Linked DNA regions of Homo sapiens. The protein of the gene in region 1 purifies or fractionates together with the protein of each later gene. This does not show direct contact. Each region holds a gene or a part of one and is shown on either strand. Other genes may lie near its edges.

The links.
Region 2: the proteins of PRIM1 (region 1) and CHM purify together in Homo sapiens (co-immunoprecipitation; one large-scale study listed by IntAct). This does not show direct contact.
Region 3: the proteins of PRIM1 (region 1) and TBCB fractionate together in Homo sapiens (co-fractionation; one large-scale study listed by BioGRID). This does not show direct contact.
Region 4: the proteins of PRIM1 (region 1) and SPANXN3 purify together in Homo sapiens (co-immunoprecipitation; one large-scale study listed by IntAct). This does not show direct contact.

What each region holds. Positions count from the first base shown.
Region 1 is NC_000012.12:56,730,314-56,736,291, reverse strand, and holds the end of PRIM1 (DNA primase small subunit), read left to right. Parts: intron 1-2,046; coding exon 2,047-2,145; intron 2,146-4,557; coding exon 4,558-4,577; 3' UTR 4,578-4,712; downstream 4,713-5,978. UniProt on the Homo sapiens protein: Catalytic subunit of the DNA primase complex and component of the DNA polymerase alpha complex (also known as the alpha DNA polymerase-primase complex - primosome/replisome) which play an essential role in the initiation of DNA synthesis.
Region 2 is NC_000023.11:85,959,746-85,964,058, forward strand, and holds part of CHM (rab proteins geranylgeranyltransferase component A 1), read right to left. Parts: intron 4,308-4,313; coding exon 3,920-4,307; intron 1-3,919. UniProt on the Homo sapiens protein: Substrate-binding subunit of the Rab geranylgeranyltransferase (GGTase) complex.
Region 3 is NC_000019.10:36,118,468-36,122,780, forward strand, and holds part of TBCB (tubulin-folding cofactor B), read left to right. Parts: intron 1-2,242; coding exon 2,243-2,339; intron 2,340-3,059; coding exon 3,060-3,251; exon of another isoform or gene 3,252-3,706; intron 3,707-4,313.
Region 4 is NC_000023.11:143,510,543-143,514,475, reverse strand, and holds part of SPANXN3 (sperm protein associated with the nucleus on the X chromosome N3), read left to right. Parts: intron 1-3,933.

The DNA.
Region 1 (5,978 bases):
GAGTCTTACTCTGTCACCCAGGCTGGTGTGCAATGGTGCAATCTCAGCTCATTGCAACCTCCGCCTCCTGGGTTCAAGCAATTCTCCTGCCTCAGCCTCCTGAGTAGCTGGAGTTACAGGTGCCCGCCACGACGTCCAGCTAATTTTTGTATTTTTACTAGAGACAGGGTTTCTCCATGTTGGTCAGGCTGGTCTCGAACTCACGACCTCACGTAATCCACCTGCCTCGGCCTCCCAAAGTGCTGGGATTATAGGCATGAGCCACCGCACCCTGCCTATATTAAATTTTTTGTTGTATACATTTTTTAAACTATTTTATAAATCAAAGAATACTTAATGCAGGCCAGGCGTAGTGGCTGATGCCTGTAGGCCCAGCACTTTGGGAGCCTGAGGCGGGTGGATCACCTGAGGTCAGGAGTTCAAGACCAGCCTGGCCAACATGGCGAAACCCCATCTTTACTAAAAATACAAAAATTATCTGGGCGTCGTGGCGGGCGCCTATAATCCTAGCTACTCGGGAGGCTGAGGCAGAAGAATCGCTTGAACCCAGGAGGTGGAGGTTGCAATAAGCCGAGATTGCCCCACTGCACTCCAGCCTGGGAGACAGAGCAAGACTCCATCTCAAAAAAAAAAAAACAAGAATACTCAATGTAAAAACTTCTAATAATCTCCAAAAGGGCGTGACCAGAGCCTGAGCAACACAAGACCTTGTCTCTACTAAAAATAAAAAATTAGCCAGCTGTGGTGGCACTCCCTGTGATCCCAGCTACTTGGGAGGCTGAGGTGGGAGGATCATTTAAGCCAGGGAAGTCAAAGCTGCAGTGAGCTGCAATTGCACCACTGCATTCTAGCCTGGGCAAAAAAGCAAGACAGTGTCTCAAAAATAAGACATGGGGCCGGGCACGGTGGCTCACGCCTGTAATCCCAGCACTTTGGGAGACTGAGGCAGGTGGATCACGAGGTCAAGAGATCAAAACCATCTTGGACAGCATGGTGAAACCCCGTCTCTACTAAAAATACAAAAACTTAGCCGGGCATGGTGGCACACACCTATAGTCCCAGCTACTCAGGAGGCTGAGGCAGGAGAATCGCTTGAACTCGGGAGGCGGAGGTTCCCGAGCCAAGATTGCACCACTGCATACCAGCCTGGCAACAGAGCAAGACTCAAAAATAAAGGCATGGACCGGGCGCGGTGGCTCACGCCTGTAATCCCAGCACTTTGGGAGGCCAAAGTGGGTGAATCATGAGGTCAGGAGTTTGAGACCAGCCTGGCCAACATGGTGAAACCCTATCTCTACTAAAAATACAAAAAATTAGCTCATTGTGGTGGCGGGCACCTATAATCCCAGCTAGTCGGGAGGCTGAGGTAGGAGAATTGCTTGAACCTGGGAGGCGGAAGTTGCAGTAAGCCGAGATCGCACCATTGCACTCCAGCCTGGGCAACAGAGTGACACTCTGTCTCAAAAAAAAAAAAAAAGAAAATATATGTATATATATTATATATATATATATAAATATAAAAGACTTGTATGAAAGAGAGTATCATATATCTCAATTTTTATTACATGCAAAAATAATATTTTAGCTGGGCATGGTGGCATGTGTCTGTAATCCCAGCACTTTCAGAGGCCGAGGCTGGGAGATCACTCGAGCTCAGGAGTTCAAGACTAGCCTGAGCAACAGAGTGAGACCTCGTCTCTACAAATACCAAAAAAAAAAAAAAAATTGGTTGGGCATGGTGGTACATGCCTGTAGTTATAGCTACTCAGGAAGCAGAGATGGGAAGATCCCTTGAGCCCAGTAGATCGAGGCTGCAGTGAGCCAAGACGGAACCACTGTACTTCAGTCTGCATGACAGAGTGAAATCCTGTCTCAGTAATAATTTCACCTTTTTTAATGTGACTAATATAGTATTTAAAAGTATGTATGTTTCTCTCATATTTCAATTGGGCAGCCCTAGAGAATTCTTATAAGAAACTTAGTTGTGTTTTCATGTTATTCTTGCTGCCAGTATGCTAATTATAATGTACATTCTTCATAATTTAGATTATAAGAAGACCAGTCTAGCACCTTATGTGAAAGTTTTTGAACATTTTCTTGAAAATCTGGATAAATCCCGAAAAGGAGAACTTCTTAAGAAGAGTGGTAAGACGCTATGCCTTTCCCTTCTATCTAGTTAGATCTTATTATTAGTAGAAATGAGCAATTTTTGAGTTCTAGTCTTTCTTTGCCCTCCTCCCAAAATTTACAGATTTATCTTACTATCCTTAATGTTTTGGAAATTGAGGTTCCTTAATTCAATTTAACACATAGTTATTAAACACATTCTAAGTATCAGGTCTATAAGGGAGACAAAGATGAATTAACATCATGCCTCCTTGCCCTTAAGAAGTACTAACTTGGCCAGGCACGGTGGCTCACGCCTGTAATCCCAGCACTTTGGGAGACCAAGGCAGTTGGATCACTTGAGGTCAGGAGTTCGAGACCAGCCTGGCCAACATGGTGAAACCCTGTTTCTACTAAAAATACAAAAAATTAGCTGGGCGTGGTGGCAGGCACCTGTAATCCCAGCTACTCAGGAGGCCGAGACATGAGAATCGCTTGAACCGGGGAGGCAGAGGTTGCAGTGAGCTGAGATCACACCATCGCACTCCAGCCTGGGCAACAGAGCAAGACTCCATCTCAAAAAAAAAAAAGAAGTACTAACTTAATACAAAAAAAAAAGTACAAAATGCTAAGAAAGAGATTTTATCTGATGGACTCTGAGATTTCATATGAAAATGGTGGTATCTGAACTCCTTTCAGTGTAGCTGCTGTAAGAATTCTAATCCCTAGCCGGGTGCAGTGGCTCACACCTGTAATCCCAGCACTTTGGGATGCTGAGGCAGGTGGATCGCCTGAGGTCAGGAGTTCAAAACAAGCCTAGCCAACATAGTAAAACCCCATCTCTACTAAAAATACAAAAAATTAGCTGGGTGTGGTGGTGGGAGCCTGTAATCCCAGCTACTAGGGAGGCTGAGGCAGGAGAATCACTTGAACCCAGGAGGCAGAGGTTGCAGTGAGCTGAAATTGTGCCATCGCACTCCAGCCTGGGCAACAAGAGCAAAACTCCGTCTCAAAAAAAAAAAAAAACCCTAGGCCGGACACGGTGGCTCACACCTGTAATCCTAGCACTTTGGGAGGCCAAAGCAGGTGGATCACCTGAGGTCAGGAGTTCAAGACCAGCCTGGCCAACACGGTGAAACCCCGTCTCTACTAAAAATACAAAAATTAGCCGGGCGTGGTATTGTGCGCCTGTAATCCCAGCTACTTGGGAGGCTGAGGCAGGAGAATCACTTGAAGCTGGGAGGTGGAGGTTGCAGTGAGCCAAGATCGCACCATTGCACTCCAGCCTGGGCAACAGAGCAAGACACTATCTCAAAAAAAAAAAAAATTTCTAATCCCTAATGCCAATATACTATACCATAAGGTATGAGAAGGATTTCCACAAGCAGAAATATGATAAGATAAAGGGTATGGAGGTGGAAAAAGGCCAAGGGTTGTTCATTCTTGAAGGAACATCAAGAGCAAAGACAGACAGGAAAGCATCCAGTTACTCTGGAAGCCATCAAGTAGTACAGCTAATCTAGTATATGGTGTGTCCAGAAGTGATGGGCTATAAATCCAAAGAAGCAAACTGAATGGCCTTGAATTCCAAGCTTATGTGTTTGGGCTTGGTTTTGGGCTTAATAGGAAGCTTTTAAAAGTTCTGAGGAAGGGAATGCCATGATTTGTAGTTTTTATCTAGAAAGATAAATCTGGGCAAGACAGGGACTAGAATAGAGCCCAAGAGGCCAACTGCGCTATTGCCACTAGAACAGTAGCACTGGAGATCTCCGAAAGGTGCAAATACTGGAACCATCCTTGAGACTTGCTAATGATTTAGAAGTGAAGAGATGAAAGATGGAAGGGAAAATGTTATAGAAGCCAGGGGAAAGAAAAGTGCAAGATTATCAAGTGTCAGGTACAGTAGGAAACTAATAAAATCCTGCTGCATATAATAACTGGAAAGAAACACAAAGAGGATAGCAGTGTCAAATGAAGGGTACTCTAAATGGGAGACATATGAGCATATGTATAAGCCAATATGAAAAAAATCAGCAGATTGAATATTATTCAAGAGATGAAGGCTACTCTAGAAAACTGTGACAATGTTATAGCAATACAAATTATCTTGCCACTTCATTTTTTATTTAAATATGTGATAGTTTAAGCAGTAGTGCCTAAGATAATGCTCTACTCAGTAGACACTCATATGTGTGATTATTGGATGAACAACAACTCTGAGCTTGGAAAGCCTGGTTGAAGCTGCCATTGCAACTGGCCGTATTAAGTCCTTTGTATCCTCACTGTTCCATACTAGCTCAGCCTATGATGTGGACTTCAGCAAATGTGTAAGCAAATCTTTGTGCATGATGTGTGTTAAATAGAAGCATTAGGCAAAAAAGAATGTAAAAGTAAATGGGCTTTGTTTTGTTTCCTTTGCTGTTCTTCCATATATTATCTATTCTATTTTAGATTTACAAAAAGATTTCTGAAGACAGAGCTCCTCAAACCATTGTGGATATCTTCTGCCTTCAACCACAGATCAAATACTTCAAGAGCCATTTAATAAATATGGCAGAACTATATATGTGTCTTAAACCTCAAAGTAAATTTTCCTTGAGAAATAATTTATGTTGAAAAGATTTCCTGGCCAAGTGCAGTGGCTCACACCCGTAATCCCAGCACTTTGGGAGGCCGAGGCAGGCGGATCACCTGAGGTCAGTAGTTCGAGACTAGCCTGGCCAACATGGTGAAACCCCCGTCTCTACTAAAACTACAAAAATCAGTCGGGTGTGGTGGTGCATACAGTAATCCTAGCTACTTGGGAGGCTGAGGCAGGAGAATTGCTTGAACCCAGGAGGCAGAGGTTGCAGTGAGCTGAGATCACAGCCACTGGGCGACAGAGCGAGACTCCATCTCAAAAAAGAAACAAAACAAAAAAAAAAGTAAGATTTCCTGAGACGACCAAGGAGAGTGTCAAGGTTCCTGGAAGGAGAAATAAAAGGAGGCATAAGTGGATTGCAGATAATTTTGTAAAATTCAATATTCTACAAGGATAATTCTAAGGCTTCTGATATAAATACCCAGTTCTACTAGTTGCCATATATAGAGGTAAGTGAGCAGTAATAGGACTGTCATCTCAGCTCACTTGATACGTCATATGTTTGGGTGAATGATGGTTTTGTCCTTAAGTTTTAGACATTTAATTATATCTAGAGGGCCAGGCACAGTGGCTCATACCTGTAATCCCAACACTTTGGGAGGCCAAGACAGGCAGATCACCTGAGGCCAGGAGTTCTTTTTTTTTTTTTTTTTTTTTTGAGACAGAGTCTTGCTCTGTCACCCAGGCTGGAGTGCAGTGGCACGATCTTAGCTCACTGCAAGCTCTGCCTGCCAGGCTCATGCCATTCTCCTGCCTCAGCCTCCCAAATAGCTGAGACTACAGGTGCCCGCCACCACGCCCAGCTAATTTTTTTTGTATTTTTAGTAGAGACGGGGTTTCACTATGTTAGCCAGGATGGTCTCGATCTCCTGACCTTGTGATCTGCCTGTCTCAGCCTCCCAAAGTGCTGGGATTACAGGTGTGAGCCACCACACCCGACTGAGGCCAGGAGTTCAAGGCCAGCCTGGCCAACATGGTGAAACCCGGTCTCCACTAAAAATACAAGAAAATTAGCCAGGTGTGGTGGCGGGCACCTGTAATCCCAGCTACTAAGAAGGCTGAGGCAAGAGAATCACCTGAACCCATGAGGTGGAGGTTACAGTGAGCTGAGATCACGCCACTGCACTCCATCCTGGGCAACATAAATAAAAATTATAAAATAAATAAAACGTATTAAACTTGTGAAAATACTTGGGACTTTTTATGTATCTAGGTACTTCAGTTTTTAAAG
Region 2 (4,313 bases), on another chromosome or scaffold:
ATGCAACAGATTTGACTATTTCCTATATTAAGATACTCTTAATGCCTATAACTCAATAAATATTAAAAATGAATGTTACATCTATAATAAATAAATGGGAAAATTAGCTTTACTATACAAAGAAAAAGGAATCTCAAAAATCAATCTAAACCATTAGTCTGAGCAACTAATAAGTCAGTAAAGACTATCAGTAAATCAATACCATTCAAGTAAAATTTTATAAACTAATAGTTCAGCATTCTGCAAAACAAAATTGACATCACTTTTTTGAAGCTAATCTGATCATCCTGATTAAATATGGCACGTTACTTCATTACCCTCTTCCTAACACACTACATTACTGAAAGAGACCATGTTTTAAAGAATATATTGCCAATTCTTAACTCTATAATAATGATAAAAAATAGTTACTTCAAAAATCACTTGTTTAAAAAGATACACATTTGAGACTCAAGGATCCCTGCATAGCCATAATAATGTCACAAACATTAAGATATAAAATATGAAACTGCATTTTTATTTAATAAGATCCAATAAACCTTAAGGTTTAATGCCAGCTTGAAAAATAATGCATTTAAGATATCACAAGAACAAAAACAAATTTCAATTAAAATTATACTAGATTTTTGTTTCTGAAGCTCACAAATAATAAATGTGTACATATCAGAATCTAAGCCTCTTTTTCTTTTTTTTTTATTGAGACAGAGTCTCTCTGCTGCTCAGGCTGGAGTGCAGTGGCTCAATCTCAGCTCACTGCAACCTCTGTCTCCTAGGTTCAAGCGATTCTCCTGCCTCAGCCTCCCGAGTAGCTGGCATTACAGGAATGCAATGCCACGCCCAGCTAATTTTTTGTATTTTTAGTAGCACACAGGGTTTCACCATGTTGGTCAGGCTGGTCTCGAACTCCTGACCTTAGGTGATCCGCCCGCTTCAGCCTCCCAAAGTGCTGGGATTACAGGACTGAGCCACCACGCTCAGCCTAAGCCTCTTTTTCACTACCCTCTAAGCGATCTACCACAGTGATGAGGGGCTAAAGAGCAGTGCAATTTGATTACAATAATGGAAATTAGATTTATTAATTAACAATTTTTCCTTAGCATGTTGGTTCCATAATTATTAAGAGTATGGACTTACTTAGAAATGAGCTTTCATTTTAAGAATTTCATCTTTGACCTTCTCTATTAGTCTGAGCAGTATGACACTATACGTATTTTATTTAACTAACCTACCTTGAGCTATTACTTTTTAAAAGGCTATATACATGAATGTGTATTGTCAACTGTAAAGCCCCACAGTATTTAATTATATCATGATGTCTTTGAGGTTGAACGCATATAGAAATGTCAACTAGTTTGGAGATACTGAGTTGGACTTTAGAAAAGAGGTAGGTCTTTGGACGAGCACGGTGGCTCACGCCTGTAATCCCAGTACTTTGGAGGGCCAAGGCAGGCAGGTCACGGGGTCAAGAGATCGAGACCATCCTGGCCAACATGGTGAAACCCCATCTCTACTAAAAATACAAAAATTAGCCAGGCATAGTGGCACGCGCCTGTAGTCCTAGCTACTCAGGGGGCTGAGGCAGGAGAATCACTTGAACCCAGGAGACGGAGGTTGCAGTGAGCAGAGATGGCGCCACTGCACTCCAGCCTGGCAACAGAGCAAGACTCTGTCTCAAAAAAAAAAAAAAAAAAAAAAAAGGAGGTAGGGCTTTAGGGCTTTAAGATAGATATTTGGCAATCATCCTAAACTTAGACGTTTATTAACTGCAATTATTAGAACAGATAAAATTTCTAAGGAGTGACCAATTGCCCCAATAACATGGAATACATTGCTTTCCATCTAGCATGCACTGAATATGTATTAAATGACTTAACATTTTAAAAACGGAAAATTAATCTCCTGTATTACTATGGTTATATGTGATTAAGATACTTCTGGTTTTGAAAATGAGTACATTAAATGTTTATTAGTTATTTTGTAGAACGTATGAACCCATGAAACTCTGCAGGACGCAGTCCCAACTGCCTAGTCCACTGCCTCTAGACATGTTTGGTTTTTACTTACCATAAGAGAACTGGTTATTACTAACCATTCAAACCGATGAAAATACCCAGAAGTCTCCTTCAGGGTATCTTCAAATGTGTCAACTTCTAATTCAATTGTCTTTTTCCTCCCACAACCAGCATTCATTTTCTTATACAACTGAATAATTTTCTACACCAATTCCTACAATTGAAACAGCACCGTCTTCTACCATTTCCCTTTGCAAGATATATACTAAATTTCAGCTAACATAAAAGTTACAGACTTTTATGAAATAGCCTTGATTCTTAACCACATTTATATCATCATTTATTTAGGTAAAACATTCCAAATTCCAAGTAATTACTTCAAAATGGAATTGTCACACAAAGCCCATTTGTTATTTGACTTGTTCAGTTTTTATGTTTTGTTTAACCTATTTCATAGAGTACTGCTCATGGGACCAGGAAGGTTATTAGTGAGCTAGGATTAAACTTCCATCCACAGATGAACAGCCAAGGTAATGTGGAAAAAATGCTAGATTTCAAATCATGACAGGGTCAAAGTAGATGGAGGTGGGAGAGATAGTACGGAAGTATGAAGTAGAACCAATGCAATAGCCAACTATGCAAAATCAGACACAGAGTGCTACATGACAGACAGAAAGAAAAATGGGTAGTAAAAAGATATTTATATTTTCAGGCATCAAGTTCAAAGGGAGCAAGAGTATGAGGATATGGGATTTGCAGAAACAACTTGTCAAGGGAAATGTTTTGGTCCCTCTCTGTCCCCTATCACTTGGAACTTGAAGAAAGTACATTAAATTGAAAAGCCTAGTTCTGTGCTAGTTCTGTGGCAAGTCTTGTGCTATTCACTATCCTCTCCTACTTCTTTTCAATTACTTATTGTTAGCTCTCAACTTATAGGATTTAGTCTGTTTTTCTCTACTTTTACCCTGTCCTGTATCATGACCCTTTAAGGCCATAATCCTTTATCTTACTGATTTTCTATTCTTTTGCACTAAAAATAGTCTTGCTTCCTATAAACCAAATGCAATATTGTACGCTTCTAAGATGGAGGGACCTCCTGTGAAGTTACAGTGAACTAACATTCAAGTTAGTTATGTTCAGGAACATAACCGAAGACAATAGCTTTCTTCCCAGCCTTCCTGCCTCCATCACTATTAAATTTTCCTCTGAAGCTTTCAAACCTGAACACATGATTTTTTTGAGACTTTTTTCTTAAATTATACTTTAAGTTCTGGGATACATGTGCAGAAAGTGCAGATTTGTTACATAGGTATACACACGCCATGGTGTTTTGCTGCACCCATCAACCCGTCATCTACATACCCGTCATCTACATACCCATCATCTACATAAGTATTTCTCCTAATGCTATCCCTTCCCTAACCCCCAACCCCGACAGGCCCTGGTGTGTGATGTTCCCCTCGCTGTGTCCATGTGAACACGATTTTTAAAAATTCATTGGTTTATTCTGAGTATTCATCATCATACAGTTGTGAAAATAGTTACTATACATAAAGGCTAAAAGAATCGATGGAAATTGACTGTAAATAACATGGATTTCTAAACAGGTTCATTAGAATTTTTCTTTTGATAGAATTCATAGTGTCCAGAGAATATTAGGTTGTAGTATGTGCTCAAGCACAAAAGTATTCTTCAGGTATAGATTAAAAACATAATTAAAGCATTTTCATGTGAGCACTTTAAATATGTTTTTAATTTGTACTTAAGGAATATTTTAAATGAATTACAAACATCTGGCTACTATCTCTTTACAAAACAAATGTTCTGCATCTCAGAGAATTACAAAAACTGGGTTTATGGGCCCAGATACTGTTTTCAATGCAAAGATGGGTAAAATTAGTACTTACCTTTGATACTAAATCAATATTAAATCTCCTGCCTTCTTTAATAATTTGTGAGTAAGTAATTCTGTTTTTCTTTGGTTGCTCTGTGGTATCTTCTGCTATAGGCACATTTTCACTCATGTCTTCTGCTGAAGTTGATGGCACACAAGTTTTATCATCACAATGGTTTTCTTTTTCCCCTGTCACTTCAGCACCATTTACTTCTAGCGCATTCTCTGGATCGCTGCTTGGAGTTTGTTCTGTGAGCATTTCACAGCTCATAGTGCTTAATGACTCATCCTCCGTAGGCAGGAAGGCAGAATCTGCAGCTTCTGTGGAGTTTGCAGATGTCACAAGAGCATGATTTTTCTGCAGTGCACCAGCTTCTTCGACATCTTCATGCAAATCCTGACTAATA
Region 3 (4,313 bases), on another chromosome or scaffold:
ACAGATCACTTAAGGTCAGGAGTTCGAGACGGTGAAACCCCGTCTCTCCTAAAAATACAGAAATTAGCTGGGCGTGGTGGCAGATGCCTGTAATCCTAGCTACTCAGGAGGCTGAGGCAGGAGGATCACTTGAACCCAGGAGCTGGAAGTTGCAGTGAGCTGAGATCACACCACTGCACTCCAGTTTGGATGATAGAGTGAGATCCTATCTTTAAAAAAAAAAAAAAAAAAAAGGTTAACTGAAGATGGGGAAGGGGTGCCCTAGGAGTGGGGCACAACCCAGCAAACACTCCAAGGTGGGAGGGAGCGCGGTGGGGATTAAGACAGGCCACTTCTGTGGCCAAACACTGTGGAAGCTGGGGAGGACCCTGACCTGGCTCAGGTGTTCACAGGCCCCCTCTGGCTGTGTGTGGGGAACAGGTGGTGGAGGACAGGAAGAGTAGGGAGACCAGGAAGGGGCTGCTGTGAGAGTCCTGATGAGGGGACGAGGTCTGGAGCTGTGGGTCAGGCCTCTGCTGGGTGCACAGGACTGAGCCTTTGGGCCACCCTGGGCAGCTGAAGCTAAGGGGTGCGGGTGTTCATAGGCACCTCATAGGCAGTGGCATCTTTGAGCAGGTTTCATAACAGGCGGTTCAGGTACACACAGACCTCCCAGGCCACTCAAGGAAGGTGTTCCAGAGTGGAGCCACTGGGGAATTTTTACATTTTCTAAAATTCTTTTTCTCTTTATAAATATCACCCATATTCATTGTTTAAAATAACAGAACTTCAAATTTGTGAAAATTCTCAACAGAAATTCTCAGTGACGCTTCATCCGGAGGTAAAGGCCATTCCTATTTTGCCATGTTAGCCCAGTGGCTTAGGCCAGACACCTCAGGGTGTTCCTTGGGCCCGCTCTCTCCCTCACCCCCACATCCACTCTCATCAAATCCTCTCGGCTCCACCTACAAAAACTTCCCTGACCCTGGTCCAGCCTCCATCCTTCCCCCAACCTCGCCATCCCGGCAGCTTCCTCCCTGGCCTCCCCGCTCCCCATCTCAGCCAGAGGGAGCCTGGGACCACCTGAGTCAGGCCAGGGCCCTCCTAGCTCAGAGCCCTGCCCTGGTGGCACTTCGCTCCAGATAAAAACCAAAGTCTAGGCCAGGTGCGGTGGATCGTGCCTGTAATCCCACCCAGTACATTGGGAGGCTGAGGTGGGAAGATCACTTGAGGTCAGGAGTTCTAGACCAGCCTGACCAGCATGGCAAAATGTCGTCTCTACTTAAAAATACAAAAATTAGCCGGGTGTGGTGGTGTGTGCCTATAGTTTCAGCTGCCCGGGAGGCTGAGGCAGGAGAATCACTTGAATTTGCAGTGAGGCAGAGGTTTCCGTGAGCTGAGATCACACCACCACACTCCAGCCTGGGTGACAGAGCGAGACTCCGTCAAAAAAAAAAAAAAAACCCAAAGTCTCCAGCAGTCCCTTGTGTCTTCCACTCTCCCTCTGGCTCGCTCCACCCCACCCGCACCACCCACTCTAGAGCGTGAAGGACATTTCTACCTCTGGCCGTCTGCACCTGCCGTTCTTGCTCATCTTTCCAGCCTTGGCTGAAACATCCCCTCTTTTGGGAAGCCTACCCTCCCATGCTCCTTAAGCCTCTTCCCTGTCATATTTTTCTCCATAGCCATCCTCCAGTGTTTCATAGGTACCTGTTCCTTTGTTTGTGGTTGGCCTTCTCCCTGCACAATGAGCACAGCCTGAGGGCAGAGTGCGTCTGTGTTTACACTGAGTCCCCAGCATGAGGCCCAGCTGGGCCCCTGGGAGCTCGGAAACCAATGAATGAATGAATAGTGGGGGCAGAACAGGAAGAGATGCTCTGGGGCCTGAGGTTGGGGCCAGCTTAGGAGAGTCCCAGAGGCCCATCGAGGAGATGCGCTGTGCACAGGGCTGTGGGCAAGGCCTGAGCTCTGCCGGTTGGACTCTGTGACTTTGGGGCCCTTGGCGATGTTGATGCCAGCAAGCGGGGAACTTCTGGGGACAGAGGCAGCCTCTGGGAGCTTGGATGGGGGTGAGGAAGGGGAGGTGGCCAGTGTACGTAGCTACTTCTCCCTTCCGCTGGGCTCAGGAGAGAAGAGAAGGCTGCAGTACAGGCGAGGGAGGGAGATGCGTTTTTCCCAGATGGAGACACTGAAGTCCCTGCACCCAGCACCCAGGCCTCCCTGGCCAGACCCTGATCCCCACGGAGCCCCTCCCCTCACACAGGTCATTGACCACAGTGGCGCCCGCCTTGGTGAGTATGAGGACGTGTCCCGGGTGGAGAAGTACACGATCTCACAAGAAGCCTACGACCAGAGGCAAGGTACGGGCAGGTGGGCGTCGAGGGGTGCGTGGGGGCCAGAGGGAGTATGTGCAGGTATGAGGGCGGGCAGGTTAGACAGGGCCCCTGCAGGGAGGCCAGTGGTGTAGACGGGGGGCCGAGAGCTTGGGAGGATATAGGGGTGAGGCTGGGAGTGGGGACAGACGGAGGCCTGGGGTGGGAATGAGGGCCGGGAGGTGTCAGGGGTATGGGCAGTCAGACGTGGTCGGGGGAGGGCTGGGAAAGTGGAGGGAGTTGAGGGGTAGGTGTGGGGGCTGGGTGTTGTCAGGGTCAGATGGGGGCATGGGGCGGTCGGACGGGGTGTGGAGGGCAGGACAGGTGGAATGCGAGTGGACAGGGTGGCGGTCAGTGAGGGCGCCTGGGACGGATCGAGTGTTGGGGGAGACCGGGGGCCTCAGGGCCGGAGGAGGGCGGAGGAGGAAGGCGGATGATGAAGGCAGATGTGCGCTGAAGGGGTGAGAGACCATGGGTCCTGTAGTGAGGGGTGCAGGCGGCACCCCTTCCATTTACGATTGTGGAGTTGGGGGGCCTAGGAGTCCTGGGAGAGGCTAAGGCTGTGGTGGGAGACCTGGGGCTTGGGTGACAGCCCTTTGTCACCTGGAAGAGAGAGTTCCTCCGTGAACGTGGGCCCCTCGTGGGTGGAGCGTCATCCTGTTAGGCCCGGCCGACACCCCAACTGACCCCAGCCCCCTCTGCCCACAGACACGGTCCGCTCTTTCCTGAAGCGCAGCAAGCTCGGCCGGTACAACGAGGAGGAGCGGGCTCAGCAGGAGGCCGAGGCCGCCCAGCGCCTGGCCGAGGAGAAGGCCCAGGCCAGCTCCATCCCCGTGGGCAGCCGCTGTGAGGTGCGGGCGGCGGGACAATCCCCTCGCCGGGGCACCGTCATGTATGTAGGTGCGTGGCTCGCGGGCCCGGTCCCGGGCTCCAGGGCTCCAAGGCCGGGAGGAAATGTTGGGGGCACAGTGGAGCCTCGGAGACCACGCTCTGCCTAGGGGCGCGGGGTTGGGGGGGACTCGAAACGATCTCAGTCCCTGGAGGTGACGGAACCATCTGCCGACACTGACGGCCCAGAGTGTTTGTGGAGGGAAGTGGGAGGCGCAGGCGGAGTGATCTGTCCAGCGAGGGAGGAAGCAGAAGCCAGAGGCACGCGGCCTGTGCGCTTCGAAGCGTGGGGCAGTGTCAGTCGCGGTGGGGAAACGGGCGGCGTGACCAAGGCAGGAGTGAGGGAACACAGGGGGCTGTGTGAGCCCAGAGGAAGCACCTGGAGGCTGGGAGCATCTGAAGGAAAGGAGGCAGCAGCCAGGTGAAAAGGGAGGAAGAGTTCCCGCCAGAAGGAGTAGCGGGTGCAGGTGAGCAGAGCGCAGGAGGTCCACCTGGGGAAGGGGAGCGGGAGGAGAGGGGAGAAGTGTAGTCAGGGGCATGGGCAGGGCGGCGTCACAGTGGAGAGCAGTGTGGATTTTTTTAAAAAGAACAGGCTAGGCATGATGGCTCACGCCTGTAAACTCAGCACTTTGGGAGAACAAGGTGGGAGGCTTGCTTGAGCCCCGGAGTTGGAGGTTACAGTGAGCTATGATTGTGTCATTGCACCCTAGCCTGGGCAGCAGAGAAAGACCCAGTCTCAAAAAAAAGGCTGGGTGCAGTGGCTCACACCTGTAATCCCAGCACTTTGGGAGGCTGAGACAGGAGGATCACTTGAACCCAGGAATTTGAGACCAGCCTGGGCAACATAATGAGACCCTGTCTCTACAAAAAAAAAAAAAAAAAAATCCCACAAAACTTTTGTCAGTTGTGGTGGTGAGCACCTATAGGTGCCCCAGCTACTTGGGAGGCTGAGGTGGGAGGATGGCTTGAGCCCGGGAGTTGAGGCTGCAGTGAGCTATGATCGCACCACTGCACTGCAGCCTGGGTGACAGAGGGAGACCCTGTCTCCAAAAAAAAAAAAAAAAAAAGATACAC
Region 4 (3,933 bases), on another chromosome or scaffold:
GAGGGGAAGTTTGAGTGCAAAGGGAACATGCCTTAGTAATATATTTCAGATTGGCAGCCATGGCAGAAGAATGTATATAATTTTCTAAAAGCTGGAGTAGGGGCAGTAAGCAGCATGGAAATGGTTGTGCACATATGAAAGTACAGAAGGTTTTTTAAACTTGGACAAGACACTTTATCACTGAGATCAAACAATTTTTTCCTGAATGGCACCAGCCCGGGCAAGTGGGGTTCATTCCTTCTGGGTATATACAGGAAAAAATGAGCAATAACGATGGGGTTTTAAGGGCTGCCTGCCAGGCTGCCAAATTTGTTGAAAGGTTTCTCTCGGTTATGGCATCTTTAGACTTTCGGCACCCCTTGCAATGGATAATGGTGGCCTTTGGTGGTAGTTTATCCACCCCCAGCAGCTTATGTATAAGTTTGCCATTTCTTATGGGAGTTCCTTTTGTAGTTAGGAAACCCTGTTCCTGCCAGATGAAGGCATGAGACTGTAGGACATGGTATGCATATTTGGAATGGGTGTAAATGTTGACCCTCTTTCCCTTTGCTAGGGTGAGGGCCCTGGTTAGGGCAACTAGCTTAGGCTGTTGAGAGGTAGCATGGGGTGGCAGAGCATTGGATTCTAGGAGTTTATTTTCAGCAATGATGGAATAGCCAGCTGCTGGACATGGCTCCCTAAAAGAGCTTCCATTAACTAACCGTGTATGTGTTCCCTGCAAAGGGGCATGTGAAATGTGTTGGAAGGAGGAGGAGAGGGAGTCTAAGAGGTCCAGACAGGAGTGAGAGAGCCTAGAATCGGAAGTGTTTACAGGGAGGAGGGTGGCTGGGTTGAGAGTTTTATATCTCTGGAAGGGGATTAGAGGGCTACCTAGGAATAAGGCATGTACCTGTTATAAGCAGGATGGTAGGAGGGATAGAAGGGATTGATGGTTTATGAGGTCCTGTAGGTAATGGGAAGATGCAATAGTAATGTGTTGGTAAAGAGGGAGTTTCCGTGCCTCTAAGGCCAGCGATGTGGCCACAGCCAAGATTTTTAGTCAGAGTGACCAGCCTTGGTCACACAAAACAACAGAGTCCAGTTGTTTTGAGAGAAGTGCAGTGGCTTGTGTGGCGTTGCCGTATGTTTGGCAGAGTAGTCCAAGGGCAAGGCCCTGGTCAGAATGTACATACAAAGTAACGGGCTTGGTGAGGTTGGGCAGTCCCTGTGCCAGGGCCATTAAAAGGGCATTTTTAAGTTTTTAAGTGGGAGTTGATGGGGCAAGCTGGGTTTAGGGGTTTTAGGATGGGCCCATGTGAGGCCCTGTTTAGTGGCTTGGCCAGCAAGTCAAAATTGGGAACTGACAGCCAGAAGTAACCCACAAGGCCCGAGAAGGAGAGAAGGTACTTTTTTGTGTGAGGAAAGGGCATGTCCCAAATTAGCTCCTTTCATTGGGTTGGGATGGCTCGAGAATTAGGGGTTAGGACAAACCCAAGGTAAGTAACTTTGGTTTGGGCTACCTGAAATATTGTGGGCTAGGCCCAAACTTTGGTTTGGGCTACCTGAGATTTCCTCTATTATGGAGGAAGTTTAAAACCTAAGTGGTGTGTTGGATGGACAGGTTAAGGAAGGGGCTACAGAGAAGGAGTTTGACATGTTGCAGGAGGGTGCTAGCAGCAAGGGAAAGTTCACCTAGGTCCTTGATGAGGGCAAGTCTGAATAGGTGGGGGCTATCCTGGAACCCCTGTAAGAGTACAGTCCACTCTAGTTGGGTGCACATGTGAGTATTAGGACTTGACCAAGTTAAAGCAAAAAGACTTCTGTAAGCCGGATTTAAGGGAATGGTGAAATAGGCATCTTTCAGTTCCAATACAGAGGAGTGTGTAGTAGATTTAGGAATATGGGAGAGTAGAGCATATTGGTTGAGGACCACTAGATGTATTGGTACCACTGCCTGGTCAACAACTTGGAGATCCTGGACAAAGGGGTAAGTCCCGTCTGTCTTTTGGAAAGCCAGAATAGGGGTGTTCTGGGGAGAGTTAACAGGCTTGAGAATATGAGCTTGTTAAAGTTTACAAATAATAGGTTTGAGGCCCCTAAGCACGGCTGGATTAAGGGGATATTGAGACTGAAAAAAGAAAATGGAGGAGTTTTGAAAGGTTATTTTAACTGGGATGTGATGTGTGGCTATTGTGGGTTTAGAAACATTCCAAGCTTTAGAATTAACAGAAGGTAACAGGGTGGATAATGAGGATGAGTAGGGGGAGAGGGAAGCGTTTGGGTGTCGGAGTAAAATAAAAGGGGTAGAATTGTAGGAGCCGCATTGCATGGAGGCCTGGAATTTACTTAATATGTCCCACCCCAAGATAGGGGTAGGGGACTGAGGGATAACCAGGAAACAGTGGGTGAAGGGGGCTGTTGAATAGGTTGCATAATAAAGGACGAGTCTGTGCCTAGAGGGGATTTTATTGATTCTCACAATAGAGATCGAAGAACAGAAAAAGGGTCTAGAATATTCTGGTAAAACCGAGTAACTAGTTGTCGTATTGAGTATCCAATAGGAAAGACATGGACTTACTAGAGACTGACAGAATTACCCTGGGTTCCGAGGTGGTGATGGCAGTAGGGGTGGTGGACTCTAGGCCCCACCTGTCTTCAGGTACAGGTGGTGAAGCTAGATGAAGAGTTTCACTGAGCACAGTCTGACTTCCAGTGTTGCTTGATATCACAGATGGGGCAAGGCTTCCAGAGTGTCACGGGATTAGGCCAGGCTTTTGCTCAGTGTCCCTGTTGGATGCACTTATAACAGGCTCCTGGAGTTGACTGTTGCCAAGTTGAGGAATTCTGTATGCCTTGGGAACCCTGTTGAGTGGCAGCTATCAGCATTTGATATTTAGCCTGGCCCTTTTTTAGGTTTGGGTTTTTTAGTTCTTCCTCTCTAATCTTATAGACCTTAAAGGCCACTTTGATTAAGTCTCTTTGGAGGTTTGAGGGCCATCCTCCACTTTTTAAAGTTTTTTTTCAAATGTCTGGGGCTGACTGGGAGATAAAGTGTAAATGGAGGTAGATTTTGCCCTTAATGGTATTAGGGCTTAAGGTGGCATATTTAGTTGTGACCTTTGAAAAGGCGGGAGAGGAAAAGAGCAGGGGCGACTTTATTTATGCCAGCTAGAAGGCATGATATCATATGGCCTGGTTTCTGCCTGTCTACAGAAGTTGCCTGATAATTCCGATTGAGGTCAGTTCTGGGGACAGCTAGGGTCCCTACTGGGTTATGAGCAGCATCTTGTTGGTGGAGGGTGTTCTCATGGACCTGGGCACCCGTAAATATGTGTTCCCTGTCCTCCAGGGTGAGGGTAGAGGAGAGGATGACATATATGTCATGCCAGGTAAGGTCATAAGATTTAGGGAAGTACAGACATTCCTTGAGGAAGGAGGTAGGATCCATTGAAAAGGAGCAAAGTCTCTTTTCAGTATGGGAGAAGTCAGCTAGGGAACTTGAATTCAGATTATGCCTTCAGTCCTTGCAACCTCCTGCAAGGGAAAGACTTTGGAAGGCCTTTGGGCATGTGTCTGGTTTTCGGCAAAAGAGCGTTGGGCGTGAGACCTGGTTTGAGGTGGAGAAGGAAGGGGGATGGAGGGTGACAGTAAGGGGGTGGAGGAGCCGGATCCGAAGGAGAAGGTGGAGGGAATGGGAGAGGGCAGGAGCCAGACGAAGGGGTTTGTTGGCCAGGTTGAAATTCAGAGGAGGAAGGCTTGTCCCGAGGAGGAGGCATTTTGGGGGGTTTCTCCTTGAGGAGGAAGATTTGAAAAGGTGAACAAGATTGGCAGGAGAGTGAGTGAGGCATGAGCGGAGATAAGCAAAGCACTTCAGATCATTTACCATTGTGTTGGAGAAAGATTTTTAGATGATGTTGAATTTGAAAGTTGAATGTTTTGTTTTTTAGAAGAGGG